4 separate regions of the Homo sapiens genome follow, and regions 2, 3 and 4 are each reported to be linked to region 1. The links are microRNA targets in miRTarBase. Many come from high-throughput screens and were not tested one by one. Region 1 holds a microRNA gene; each other region holds the end of a gene's coding sequence.
What was found. Region 1 holds the annotated microRNA hsa-miR-3122 (GUUGGGACAAGAGGACGGUCUU, at 946-967, shown strand). A microRNA usually pairs through its seed, bases 2 to 8, with sites in the 3' UTR of a target mRNA and lowers its output. Matches are read on the target gene's strand: a 7mer-m8 pairs with bases 2 to 8, a 7mer-A1 pairs with bases 2 to 7 and ends in A, and an 8mer does both.

Region 1 (3,142 bases):
TTGGACCTTGGGTGAAGAGAAACTTAATCGACTGGGGCCATCCCAAACAGAGGAGGAAAGGAAAATTTCTGTGACTACTGGGATAGTTAGAGACGATCTTCAAAGTCTTTTCTAAAATATGTTACATTGTGAAAGAATGAATTATCTCTGTGCCATTGTAGGAGTAGGCAGTAAGTGAGATTCCTGTAGATGTGGAAAAAGCTTCCTTTCTGATAAATTTTAATTAACTCTGCAAGACAAGTTAGACTCTGCTCTTTGTCTTCTTTTGCTTTTTTAATTATTGCATATGTACCATTTAAGCCAAGAGAGGAGTATTAATGATTGAGTTGAATAACCTTATCAGTCAGTGTGTCAGATCTCTTAACCATAATCTGGGGGAATCTATTAAGTTTACTTAGTCATTCTCACAAATAATCATTCCAGAGTCACCTCCACTTTCTTCATACAAATGAGCCATGATTCAGAGCCTCAGGAAAATGAAAAGAGAATAACTTCTCTCAGCCCCAACCTCCTTGCTCTTTTGAAACACACATGCTAATAATAGTTATGTGTGTTTGTACTCGTTATTGTGCTGATTAATTCCCATGGCCTATGAAAGAGATTGACATCTCTTGAATGAGTCAGCTGTATGATGCTGTCAAATGTACATAACTGGTGGCATCTGATGATGGAAAAATATGATTCTTAGTCACATGTACAGGACAGTACAATGTGACCCTTCTTTCTGCATTAAAATATATTAAAATGCGAGTGACACTTACTTGAAAATTCAAAACTTCTCTCAGAAAATTAACTGAAATATAGTTTTAGAGGAAAAAAATGTTTTTCAGAAAGGATACCAAAGTGCCATGTAAAATATAGTTTATACCCCTTCAGAATGAAGGTTATCCAACTCAAAATGAAGGAGTATAACTTTGGGTTTTGTAAAAGTTAGTGACCAGCTCTGTTGGGACAAGAGGACGGTCTTCTTTTGGAAGGAAGACCATCATCTTGTCCGAAGAGAGCTGGTAGCATGTTTCAGAAATCTTCAGGTTTCACAGTTAATTTAGTGTTCCTAGAAGTAGCTGACTAGGGATCTGAAGATATATATGCTGTGTAAAAACAGGACTGAGTTGTCGAGTTGACTACTTAAGGATGGATAACATCCTTCCAGAAAGTTTACCACCTAAGGAATAAGGGACAATGCCAGTCTTGAATTTTAGTCAAAATATATATGGCTAGGTTGTCCTGATATGAAATAAGGACTATCCTTGTGTGTAAGCTCATGTTATTTACTTATTTTGACTGTTTTCATTGTGTTTTCTCAGATTAGTAACAGAAATATTTCATTGCCCATTGGAAATCTGTTGTTTTTTTTTTCCTAACTATAGCTAGGCAGGTCTAGTGGCCTTTGGTAACAATCCTAAAGCTCTCTAAGACACACTTCTGAATTCAAAGGCCTCTATCTGGGAAATCTAATATTGCTTTGCTGACTTGTTTGTTTTTGATTGGACTAGGTCTCCACACCCTGGCAACCTCCTACTGTGCTCCTGGGTCATTCTCAAGAGGTCACGTCTGTGTGCTGGTGTCCATCTGACTTCACAAAGGTTTGTAAATGAATCTCTATAGTTGGTTTAAAATGTAGATCACAGGTTTGTAGGTTTTTCTAAGGTTTGTTTTGAGAATGATATAAATTTTTATGTTTAAGTTGAGATTTTAAAGACCTAAAGGCCATCCAGGATCTATATTCACATTACTCAGGCATATTCTGCTTTTCTCTACCCATACCATAATGGTATTATGCCCTGTGAAATAAGGATAGATTTCTGGTTCCCTACAGTTATTTCTTTCCTAAATGTAGGATTAAGTTGTTAACTTAATTAAAATTTTCTATTAAAATCTAAGATAAAAATACAATCTAAGGTGAGAACTAGTCTTTTTTACTTTTTAGATATTATCAATGTAGTATATTAAAGGTAACATCTTGACAGCCCAATTTGGGTTTTCACATATGGCTAACAAAATGGTAACTGTGAAGTCTTAACATGTTAGGTTATCTATTGCTTAAACTATGTAAGTAGGTCTGAAATGTTTTAGATACTCCAGAAAGAAGACAATATGCCCACCTTTTAATTTTTTTATAGTGACACTTTAAGAAACAAAAAAACCCTAAAATGTAGAAAGGCCAGAAACATTAAAAACTATGTATCTATTGGAATTGCATATAATAGTAGCTCAAGTTCCAGTCATTCTCCCAAACCCCATTGCCTCTGGTCTTTGAGTTATTCTGGGTTCTACAGGAAATCTTATTTCTGTGGAGGTCTCCCCTTTCACGTATGACGTTTTGAGGTTTTGTTGCCTATTGTTCCCATCTGTTTTTTATCTTCCAGAAACTTCTCATGGTCTGGTCTATTTGTGGCATCCCTGCTAGCTTCCAGTATTGCTGTGGATTTCTCCTTATTGTTACCATTTCTGTGCTCAACTTCATGGCAGACCTTTTCTTTTTTTTTAAGTCATTACTTTAATCACCCAAAATTACATATTAATGATATTTTTTCCTCTGAGATTCCATGTAATTTCTTTTAACATGGAGGGTTGCATCTTCATGGGACTTACTAAGTTGAATGATTTTTGAATTATTCAGTTAATTATGTTATCTTTTTTTCAATTGTCATATATTATCCTTACCCCTATGCATCTCAAACATCATATATTAATTATCCTTATTTCCTGTGCTCAAAGGAAATAGCAGGGCTGTTTACCTATACTAATTTATTGGCTACTTTTTTAAGTCTTAAAAATAATTTCATCCCAAGCCTAGAATTAGGAAAGTAAAATATGGTTTGTGTTGTTTTTGTGTTTTTAATGTCTGGCATTTGGAATAGGAGAAAGCTGGGTTTAAATTCTAGCTCTTCCATTTGATTGTGGTTACTTTGGGCAAATAACTTTATTCCCATTTTGCATATGAGATTATTTGAGTACAAAGCTTTTAGAGTGTGAGAATTAAATAAGATAAAGAATGTAAACTACCAGACACATAGTAGGTGCTCTGCAAATAACTATTGTTAATAAACTATAGAAGAACTGTGAGATTCCAAACATTTCATATTGAACAGTTAAATATGTGTATCTTCTTTTGGCCTCCCAGTAAGGAAAGGAAAAA
Region 2 (3,142 bases), not on the chromosome of region 1:
TGGAAAAGGAACCCCTTCAATGGGTAAAGGGAGGTAAAGTTAACTGAATGGCCTTATTCATCATACACATTCAAGTTTTATCACAGTTGTAAGGTCTGGTAAATTTTTGAGTAGTGCTTCTCAAGCAAGGGGAGTGGGGAGAGGTACATCCCATTAGGAATGTGCCACCCTCCCCACCATAGTCTTTTTTGAGACAATGCCATGGTGAGCAATTGTTACCAATGGGAATGTGTCACATGTCTTAAATGTAGTGAGACACTTTTTAAAAATTAAGACCCACTCCAGTGAGGTCTTCAGCTGACCCCCTGCCAACCTTTTAGACTTTCTGAGATGGCTTGGATGAAATTATACTCACATTAGACATCTAATGCCTATTATTTAATACTTAATGATAATTAATATATTTGAACCCCTTCTCATTTTGCATAGGAAGCTTTCAAATCAGTGTTCTGCAAACTGTCGTAAAATTCTGATTTATAACACTGTCCCCAAAAGTATATAATGGGACTAAAGTTTACCAAACTTATAAAAATGTTATGAAACACTGGATCTTATTTTGTTGATTTAACATTTCATTTCCATCATTAAGCATGTGAAAAAGCAACATAAGCAAAGATTAAATAATCTAAAAATCCTTCAAATTGGTCACTCATTATTTCAGTACTTACTGAGCTAAACATTATTTTGTTACCTATAAAGGAGAGAATGTAAAACACTGTATGTCTTTGGCATTACTAGAAAGGGGTATTTAAACTTTGTACCTTTTTTTGCCATAAAATTGAAGTTACAGTAAGATGAAATGGAAGCTCACAAGCCCTGTTGGTGTGGAATTCCACTAATAATGTCAGATTGTTGCCAGAAAAACAAATTTTGTCATGCAGCTTGCAATTAATGTACCAAAAATTTACCAGCCCATATAATTTTATCAGTCTGCCTTCCCCAGAGGAAGTAAACAGATAATAAAACTAACGAAATCATATTTCTTGACCACTCTCATCCAATATAAATTGTTACTTGTCCTTCGAGTATTAGACAGTGAGCTGTTTACAAGGCCATTCAAATGTCTGGGCTAGTTAATGGTAGAGGCAGTAGTCTAAAATATGGAGTATTCCTGAGTCAGCAAAGAGGATCCTGCATTGTGAGGAAGCCCCCCTAAGTCATTACCAAGTGCAGATCTGGGTTTGATGGGCCTCTGTCAAAAGTTGTTTTGCATCCGCATTTCTGTGTTCCCTGAAAACACCATGAAATACTGAACTTTAATCAGTAATGCAACAAATGAGAAAATGCTCAGTGTTTTAGAACTATTCAGAGTAGAAAACGCTGGAACATAAAATGAGGTTACGCCTTAGTTGGTGAGTTGCTAAAACTTGAGATCAGGCGAAACAAAGCTGATAGGTCTAATGCCTTTTGGAACATGTAACACCAGCAGTTCTTCAAGTTTGGCCTCTGGCCCTCCTGTATTAGAATCATCTGGGAGACTTGCTCCAGTGCAGATCTCCTCTACAAAACCTACATTTAACCTAGTGAAGCAGAACCCCCTGGTTTTCCCTAGGAGTCTGCATTTGTCACAAGCTTACTGGATGTTTCTGATTCACAGTAAAGCTTGAGAACACTATATGTGACCACCCCACTGGCAAGGTGATTAACTTCTTATGCATATGGATACTAAATTTTGCAACATATTTGAAATGCTGAAGCAATATCAAATGTATGACATCCCCAAATATAGCAATTTCCATTGGTTTAAAAGGTGGCATATGAGCACAACCAATTGGGATTAACTCAGTCAACTCTTATGGTTTAACACATTTTACCTGCACTGAAAAATACTTTGCAGATCAAACTGGCAACCAGAAAACAGAACATAACAGAACACATGACACCCCGCTGTGGACTTTTAAGAAAAAAACTGACAAACTCCAAATCCATAATGACATGAGAACTTACACTTTGAAGGCAGAATGGACTTGTGGGAAGAGAGGACTCCCCTTCTGTTCTCCCTTCACTAGGTGGAGAAGGGAAGAAGGGCTCTCCCCAGACAGCTCTCTTCATTCTGGAATGTTTTGCCAGTCCCCAAGGCACTCAGTGACCAACTTTCTTTCACAGGTCCTCCCAGTGACTGACCTGGCTCATTCTCCGAAAGTGGTTGACAGGCCACTACGAGAGCTCTTGAGAGAAGCTTTGTGACATGAAATTCATCAAATGAAGCAAGATTCATTTTTAAAGAATAATACAAAGCTCCAGAGTAATATGCTTAATCCAAATGTTTAAATAGAATTTAAAACCACATTTTAAGTAAATTTAAAATTAATGAAATATCAATAGTTTGCCTTAACAAGGACTTGCTTGAACCATATTCTCCTTTTAAAATCACACACACAGAATCAGTGTACATTTAGAGAAATTTCCCCAGCTGAATAACATTTTTGACATGAATTCATTCAAAAGACACCAACCATTATGAATATTTTAGGCCATGATAAGCTGTAACCACCTCCGGCTTATGGTGGTTAGGATGTTGCAGCTTAATGTTGACATCTGGCATGAAAAGCTTATGGTCTGAGTCATGTTTCTTTTTTATGTAATTCTGGCTTGGGAATCCGATACAGAGCAGCTGAGAAATAAATTATGTTGCTGAGGCTGAAGATGATGCACAGAAGTATGGCTCCAGCTATCTGAGAGAAAGAGAAGGGCTTGGAGGTGGCCAGGAGCCATTCCTTCCTCAGAGTCTTGTCCAGAAGTATGGCTTCCATCTGCATGTGCGTGGCCAGGATCACACACACGTGAAACAGCTGGTGACTGTGACCTATGGCAAACACAAAAGGCCGTCAAGATCAGCAATGAAAAGGAATGAGTACTGATACATGCTATGGCATTCATGCTAAAAATGATGCTAAGTGAAAGAAACCAGACAGGAGACCACATATTATATAAAATCTCCAGAATATGCAAATCCATAAAGACAGAGAGTAGATTAGAGGCTGCCTCAAGCAGGGGGTGAGAATAGGTATTAACAGTGCATGGGTCTGATGGAGGGGATGAAAATGTTCTAAAACTGATGTATGGTGAATTTACTGAAAATATCATTAAATTGTATACTTGACATTAGAGAATTATTGAATATGTGAAATATACCTTAATA
Region 3 (3,142 bases), not on the chromosome of region 1:
AGATTATTCCCACTACATTTCCCTGCCCGCTGGTGTGCTGAGCCTGGCCTGCTGCACCCTCTATGGGATCTCCTGGCAGTTTGACCCTTGCTGCAAGTACCAAGTGGAGTACGACGCCTATAAACTGTCGCGCCTGCCTCTGCACACACTCACCTCCTCCACCCCGGTGGTGCTGGTCCGGAAGGACGACCTGCACAGAAAGAGACTGCACAACACGATAGCACTGGCCGCCCTGGTGTACTGTGTAAAGAAGATTTACGAACTCTATGCCGTATGATTTCAGTAGAACAGGGAGCGAAGCAAAACCACCCGGCCCACAAGAGACAACAGAGTATTCAGATCGCCACACTCTGTGAGGCAGCAGAGCCTGGGCAGGTGTTTGGCTTAGTATTTGTTATTTTTAAAAAATAACAGATCACGGGTGTACCCAGGGTTTTTCAGCTCATTACACTAAGATGTGGATTTCCATAACCCAAGAGGGGGGTCTGAGGCTGTGGAAGTCCGACTGGGCAGTGGAATGCTGATGGAGGCAGACGCTGCCGAGGGGGTGTGGACGTGCTTTGGGGGAGGTCTTTAAGTCTATTGTTTAACTGTACCATCCAGAGCCCACCAGAAGCTATTGATCATTAAAATTATGAGAATTTCAACTCCCGCTGTTCTCTCTTTCCATGACTGCCCGCAGCTGCTGCTGCACATCTGCTCTGGGTGGCGGCTTGCACATGGAAGGAGCAGGTGCCATGGTAGCCACCCTGCCCTGCTCCTAGCTGCGGCCCAGTGTTACCACTTACAGCGACGACAAGCCTAGATCCAAGGTAGTCCTGGGGCCAAACCCCGCCCAGGAGCAGTCTCCTGGCTCACCTTGGCCTCATCATTCCGAAGGCCATCACTGCCACCATGCTGTTCAGGAACATGGTAGGATAAGGTGACGAGGCTTGGAGGCCTTTGGGTGTCCACTTGAGTTCACGTGGGGAACTCTGGGCTCCAGGATCGCTCTTCAGAGATCTGAACACCTGTGTTTTCTTTGAAGCACCAAAACTCTTCCTACTGTGGACCATGAGTTTATTAACCCATTGCCCTAGGCTGACAGAAGAGCCCTCGGAGCAATCTTGGAAGCACCCCCTGGCCTCAGTGCTCGCTGTTCCACAGGAGCCAAGCCGGTGCTTCTCCCTCACACCAGAAGGTAGACTGTGTCACCTGCCACATTTCCTCTAAGGCAGGGGTGGCCAATCTTGACTTCCCTGTGCCACATTGGAAAAAGAATTGTCTTGGACCACACATAAAATACACTAACGACAGCTGATGAGCTAAAAAAAAAAAAAAATCACAAAAAAATAATGTTTCAAGAAAGTTTACAAATTTGTGTTGGGCCACATTCAAAGCCATCGTGGGCTGCATGAGGCCCATGGGCTGCTGATTGGTGATTGGACAAGCTTGCTCTAAGGCTTTGGGTAAATGGGAAATTCTCTCTTCCACAAAAAGGCTGGGGTGCCTGTCTTCACTTCTGCCTTCCTAAAGCCCCATTCATCCCTGAAGAGCCACATGGCACCTCCTTCTGAAGGCCAGTCTTTTGTTTTGTTTTGTTTTGTTTTTGAGACAGAGTCTTGCTGTCACCCAGGACGGAGTGCAGTGATGTGATCTCAGCTCACTGCAACCTCCACCTCCCGAGTACAAGTGATTCTCCTGCCTCAGCCCCGAGTAGCTGGGACTATAGCTGTGTGCTACCATACCTGGATACTTTTTGTATTTTTAGTATAGATGGGATTTCGCCTTGCTGGCCAGGCTGGTCTCTAACTCCTGGCCTCAAGTGATCTGCCCGGTTCGGCCTCCCAAAGTGTTGGGATTACAGGCGTGAGCTGCCGTGCCTGGCCAGGCCAATATTTAAGAGACAGCCAAAGTGGTTTCTCACCTAGTTTTAAAGTCCCCATCAGGAAGACCTGATGTCACAGAGTAATGAAAGGGTGCATGGGAAGGATTCACGAGGGGTGATTGGGCCATTTTTTGTAGGGGAGATTCACACCTCTTAAGGATTTTAAAAGGGACCCACGGCCCACAAAAAGTTTAAGAAACTTTGATTTAATTCCAAGAGATTTAGAAATAACTTATCACTCAGTTGAGTGCTGGGGGCATGACGGTGTTGGGTGTGCACCACTGTTTACGTGGCAGTCTCTGGGCACCTGGAATAATGGTAAAGAGGGAACTGCCTTAGCCACACAACTGATCCCGTAAAAACATGCCTCATCTCGACAGCAGTGTGAGTTGAAATGCAGCTGCCCATGACCCCTCAGGTGTCTGAGTGCTGGCATCTGAGCCTGCTGGGCAGGTTTTTGGTTTTTTTTTTTCTTAATAATGCCCAGGTTTGGAAAGGGAGCCCCATACCTGGCCTGGAAGTGCTCTGCCAACAAGTTAGATTTCATGGGGGAATTGACTAGAAGGCACAAGCTGGACAAGCCAGACAAGTCGAGGCAACCTCAAGTCAGCTGAGCAGGAGCCCTCCCCCGAGGTAGAATCCAGCTGCAAATGGGTAGCTCTTCTACCATTTCCCAAGCTGCACTGAACCAAGTGATTCTTATTGGATGTATTAACCTAGATTCTGAAATGCCATCTTAGTTACATGGCCCCTGGCCAGGGAGATGGGGATGAGGTGCTGGTGTGGACTGCAGGCAGGGGTTTCGTGTGCCTGAGGCTGGCAGCAAGAAATGTGCCTCCCTTCCCACTGTCAGTGCTGACTTCTCTGTTCCTGCCATTGTCCTTGCTAGATGATCAGTCATGGCAGAGCTGCTGACAAGTTGCTTATGGTCATCTGTGATATGCGACAGTACTTCTCAAGAAATAGCATTTGAAGGCTGAGTGCAGTAGCTCATGCCTGTAATCCCAGCACGTTGGGAGGCTGAGGCAGGAGGACCATTAAACACTTGAGTCCAAGAGTTGAAGACCAGTCTGGGCAACATAACAAGACCTGTCTCTACAAAAAAAGACAAAAATTAGCCAGATGTGGTGGTACGCAAATGTGGTCTCAGCTACTCAGGAGTCTGAGGAGGGAGGATCATTCAAGCCTGAGAGGTTGAGAATGCAGTGAGCTGTGATCTTACCACTGCACTTCAGCCTGGGCAACAGAGTGTGACCCTGTCTCCAAAAAATAATT
Region 4 (3,142 bases), not on the chromosome of region 1:
GGTCTCCCTTTGACTCGCTTTTCTCCAACGACTAATTTCAGGAGGAGGCCGCGGAGGCCGGGGCTAATCTGGGGAGGGGGGTGTGGGGAGGAAGGAGCTCCAAACGCAAACCGAAGCCGGGCCCCGCGCCGCCGCGGGTAATTACAGCTCATTAGCTGGAGAGCGTTGCCGTCGCGAGCGGCGTCCAGGAGGCCGGCGTCGGGGCGGGCGCGACTCGGAAGGGACCGGGCCTGCGAGAAACGCCCCAGCCGGAAAGCCAGGCGTGGGCCGCGCGGGTCTCCACCCGCCACCCCCTACTCCACAGAGTCCGACCGGACACGTCGAGAACGGTACCGTCTCCGGCGGCCGAGCTGCTCCGCCTCGGGCTGGGCCAGCCCGCCCGTGGGGACAGGGCCGTGAGTCACCTGCTGCAGCTCCCCTTCCGGGCCTCGACACCCCAGCTCCGGCCGCGGGCCCTTTGTCCGCAAATCCCAGCTCCTCGCCGGGCTCCCCAAAGTGGAGCGATCACACCAAACTCCTGGAGACTGGCGGTGGAGTCTCTACCGTCACCCCCTCCCCTTCCCCCGCCCCGAAAGAGGCTGTAACCCGAGGAAGCTGGAGGCAGCCCCGGGACCTAGCGCCGCGACAGCCCAGCGAGATTTAAACGGGGCCGTGAGGCCACCCCCAGCCCGCCTGCCCCGAGGAGACACCCGCGCCAGCGCCGCTGCGATCTTCCCGGCGATTAGGTTACGACCCTGGGGGAGGGGACCGAGCGAATCACAGGCCACGTAGAGCAGTTTTTGACTGAAATTAAAGTGTATTTATTTGCAGCAATCCTTTAACAATGATCAAATTTTGACAACAAGCAACAGCAATTACTGCTTAAGTGTTGCCTCTAGATAGGAGCGGCAGATAGCAGGAAACTGTATTATCTCCAAAACAAACTGCAAGCCCCCCACCCCCCCGAACGTCTGTAATCAAATCGCCATCTCCCCAAAGTCTGATTGGCAGGGCAGATCACCCTAAGATAATGAATTTATTACATTTCCTGGGTTATTTACAAAAGGGGGAGGGCCAATCCGGATTGTCCCCTAGGTTTAACTGTAAATTAACAAGAAAAAATGGTTTAAAAAGAAACCACCCTAGACCAAAATGTTCTGCTCCTCTCGCCTTCCTTCTTGTTATTGCTTTAAATCTTTTTCAAAAATAATTGTTCTACAAACATATTTTCTAAAATAGTTTCTCAAAGATTAAATATCCCTTTCCAACCCGCAGTATATTTTTAAAAAAGCAATCCTTCTATGTAATACATGAAGGATTGTAAATGGGGGAGAATTATATACATACATTTAAAAACTGGTTTATTTTTCCTTTTATAAAGGACTGAAATAATAGGAAAATATCTATTCAGCATCTGGCTCACAGGGATGTATAATATGCACTGCAATTTTATATGGAATACACAAGCCAAATATTTATCTGTGCATATCTGGCCGCACAGTCCCATCTCTCGGCACACAGGCATCACCGTGGTAAGACCGCGGCTGATTCATGGGCTTAAAATTTCCGAATCATGGACTGTCATTAGTGAGAAAACGTATTTGTTTATATGCCAACTCCAATCTGTTTAGAAAAATATCTTTTTACTAGCCTCAAAGCAAGCTGACTATATAGTACATTTTGCAGAAGATGCTGCAGGAAAATAAATCTAAACAAAAAGACTTTTAGTAAAATTTGACATGGACTAGTCAGAGGGTTTCTCCATTTTTCAGAGATTTAGGTGGAGAATAGGTAACTTCTAGTGTTTTATCTCTGAAATCTTTTTTCGTAATAATTAAAGCTCTATTAAAGTATCCAGACATATAGGTCTCATTCAAACTGAATGGTAATTTATTAATAAACAAACAATGAATATGTTCAACAAAAAGAAAGAAAAGAGGATAGAATAAGATTAATACAGTTTCCCTTTTTATAATGAGAAAAAAAGCACAATTTAAAGTTTCAGGCAATTTAACGTCAGGTTTTGGGAACACTTTCTGGCGTTTGGTCCACGACATCCAACTACAAATTAAAAATAAATTACTATGTTGCAATTTACATTTTAAAACAAGTCCATGAATAAAAAGAAAGCGACTTTCATAAACGGGGACTTTCCCCCTCCCTTCAACATAGGATAAAATAATATCTTACAGGTGAGAGGCAAGGAAGAAGGCAAGAGAGGGGAGACGGGAGGAGGGGAAAGCAGGTCTCTGAAAAGCAAGAAGAAACTTACGTGTTATCTGGAGTAACACTGTCCTTTAATAAACCAAGATTTTGCTGTCTCTGTATAAAACAGTTTACGGGTTTGTTTATTTAGACAAGGCAAAGTGGAGGTGGCTCTGAATTAATCGGTTAAGAAAATAGAGTTTTCTTCGTGCTGGTGCTGGTGAGCTGAATTTTTGGAGGGATATTCTGTTCGCTGGTGTGGTGAATATTCTCAGGGGTTTTTTTTAATTGGATTTTTTTTTTTTAGTTTCGATTTTGCCTTGATGGGTTCCTTTAGCTTTTCCTGCTTTGGGGTTCGATTTAGTTCGGCTTTGAGGGTGTGTCAAAACTTGCTACAGTCGTAGACGAAAGCTCCGGACGTGCGGTACAGAGACTGGCTGGAAGGGAAGGCCATTTGACAGCTACTATTCCCGTTCACTGGAGAGTTGTTCAAGCCGATCCTCTGTGACTCGAACATCTCCCGCACCGAGTGGAAGTTCTGCTGCTGGCCCGGGTAGCCTGCGGCCGCCGCCGCCGCCGCCGCGCTCGCCAAGTGGCCCAGGTCTCCGCCCGCCTGGTTCAGGTACCACGAGGTGAGGCGGCCTTGGTGGGCCGCAGGGTGGTGGCCGGCCTCCTGGCCTCCCCCGCCGCCGCCGCCGCCGCCGCCGTGACTCAGGGACGACGAGCTGCTGCTGGTGACCGGAGGCAGAGAGTAGTCGGGCAGGGGGTCGTCCACGGCCGAGCCGCCCGCGCCCCCGGGCGCGCCCTGCAAGTGGCCCCCGCGCTCGCCGGCCGCGTACAGGCTCATGGCTTGCAGGTTGCAGTGGTAGGTCCCGGCGCCGCCCGCGCCCCCCGCGGCCCCCGCGCCGCCGCCGCCGCCGCCCGAGCTGCCCGCGCTGGAGGTCTGGCTGCAGGGGGA

Region 2: the mRNA of PAQR5 is a reported target of hsa-miR-3122. The part of its 3' UTR that is shown has no 7-base or 8-base seed match.
Region 3: miRTarBase lists TMEM11 as a target of hsa-miR-3122. The part of its 3' UTR that is shown has no 7-base or 8-base seed match.
Region 4: the mRNA of FOXC1 is a reported target of hsa-miR-3122. Seed matches in the 3' UTR shown: 7mer-A1 at 2,002-2,008.

The regions. Positions count from the first base shown.
Region 1 is chr1:212,076,677-212,079,818 of GRCh38, forward strand. It overlaps MIR3122 (microRNA 3122), which reads left to right and starts at 937; the gene lies at 937-1,009. It overlaps DTL (denticleless E3 ubiquitin protein ligase adapter), which reads left to right. Exons shown (of 15, transcript NM_016448.4): 12 at 1,497-1,586.
Region 2 is chr15:69,403,245-69,406,386 of GRCh38, reverse strand. It overlaps PAQR5 (progestin and adipoQ receptor family member 5), which reads right to left. Exons shown (of 9, transcript NM_017705.4): 9 at 1-2,806. The coding sequence ends at 2,565. The region is part of intron 1 of KIF23-AS1 (KIF23 and PAQR5 antisense RNA 1); the gene reads left to right. Among named protein-coding and RNA genes, the nearest start is that of KIF23, 9.5 kb to the left of the region's middle.
Region 3 is chr17:21,195,459-21,198,600 of GRCh38, reverse strand. TMEM11 (transmembrane protein 11) reads left to right here. Exons shown (of 2, transcript NM_003876.3): 2 at 1-647. The coding sequence ends at 277. Among named protein-coding and RNA genes, the nearest start is that of TMEM11, 17 kb to the left of the region's middle.
Region 4 is chr6:1,611,532-1,614,673 of GRCh38, reverse strand. FOXC1 (forkhead box C1) reads right to left here. Exons shown (of 1, transcript NM_001453.3): 1 at 777-3,142. The coding sequence ends at 2,567. Among named protein-coding and RNA genes, the nearest start is that of FOXC1, 3.2 kb to the right of the region's middle. RefSeq lists enhancers at 1-429, 430-1,047.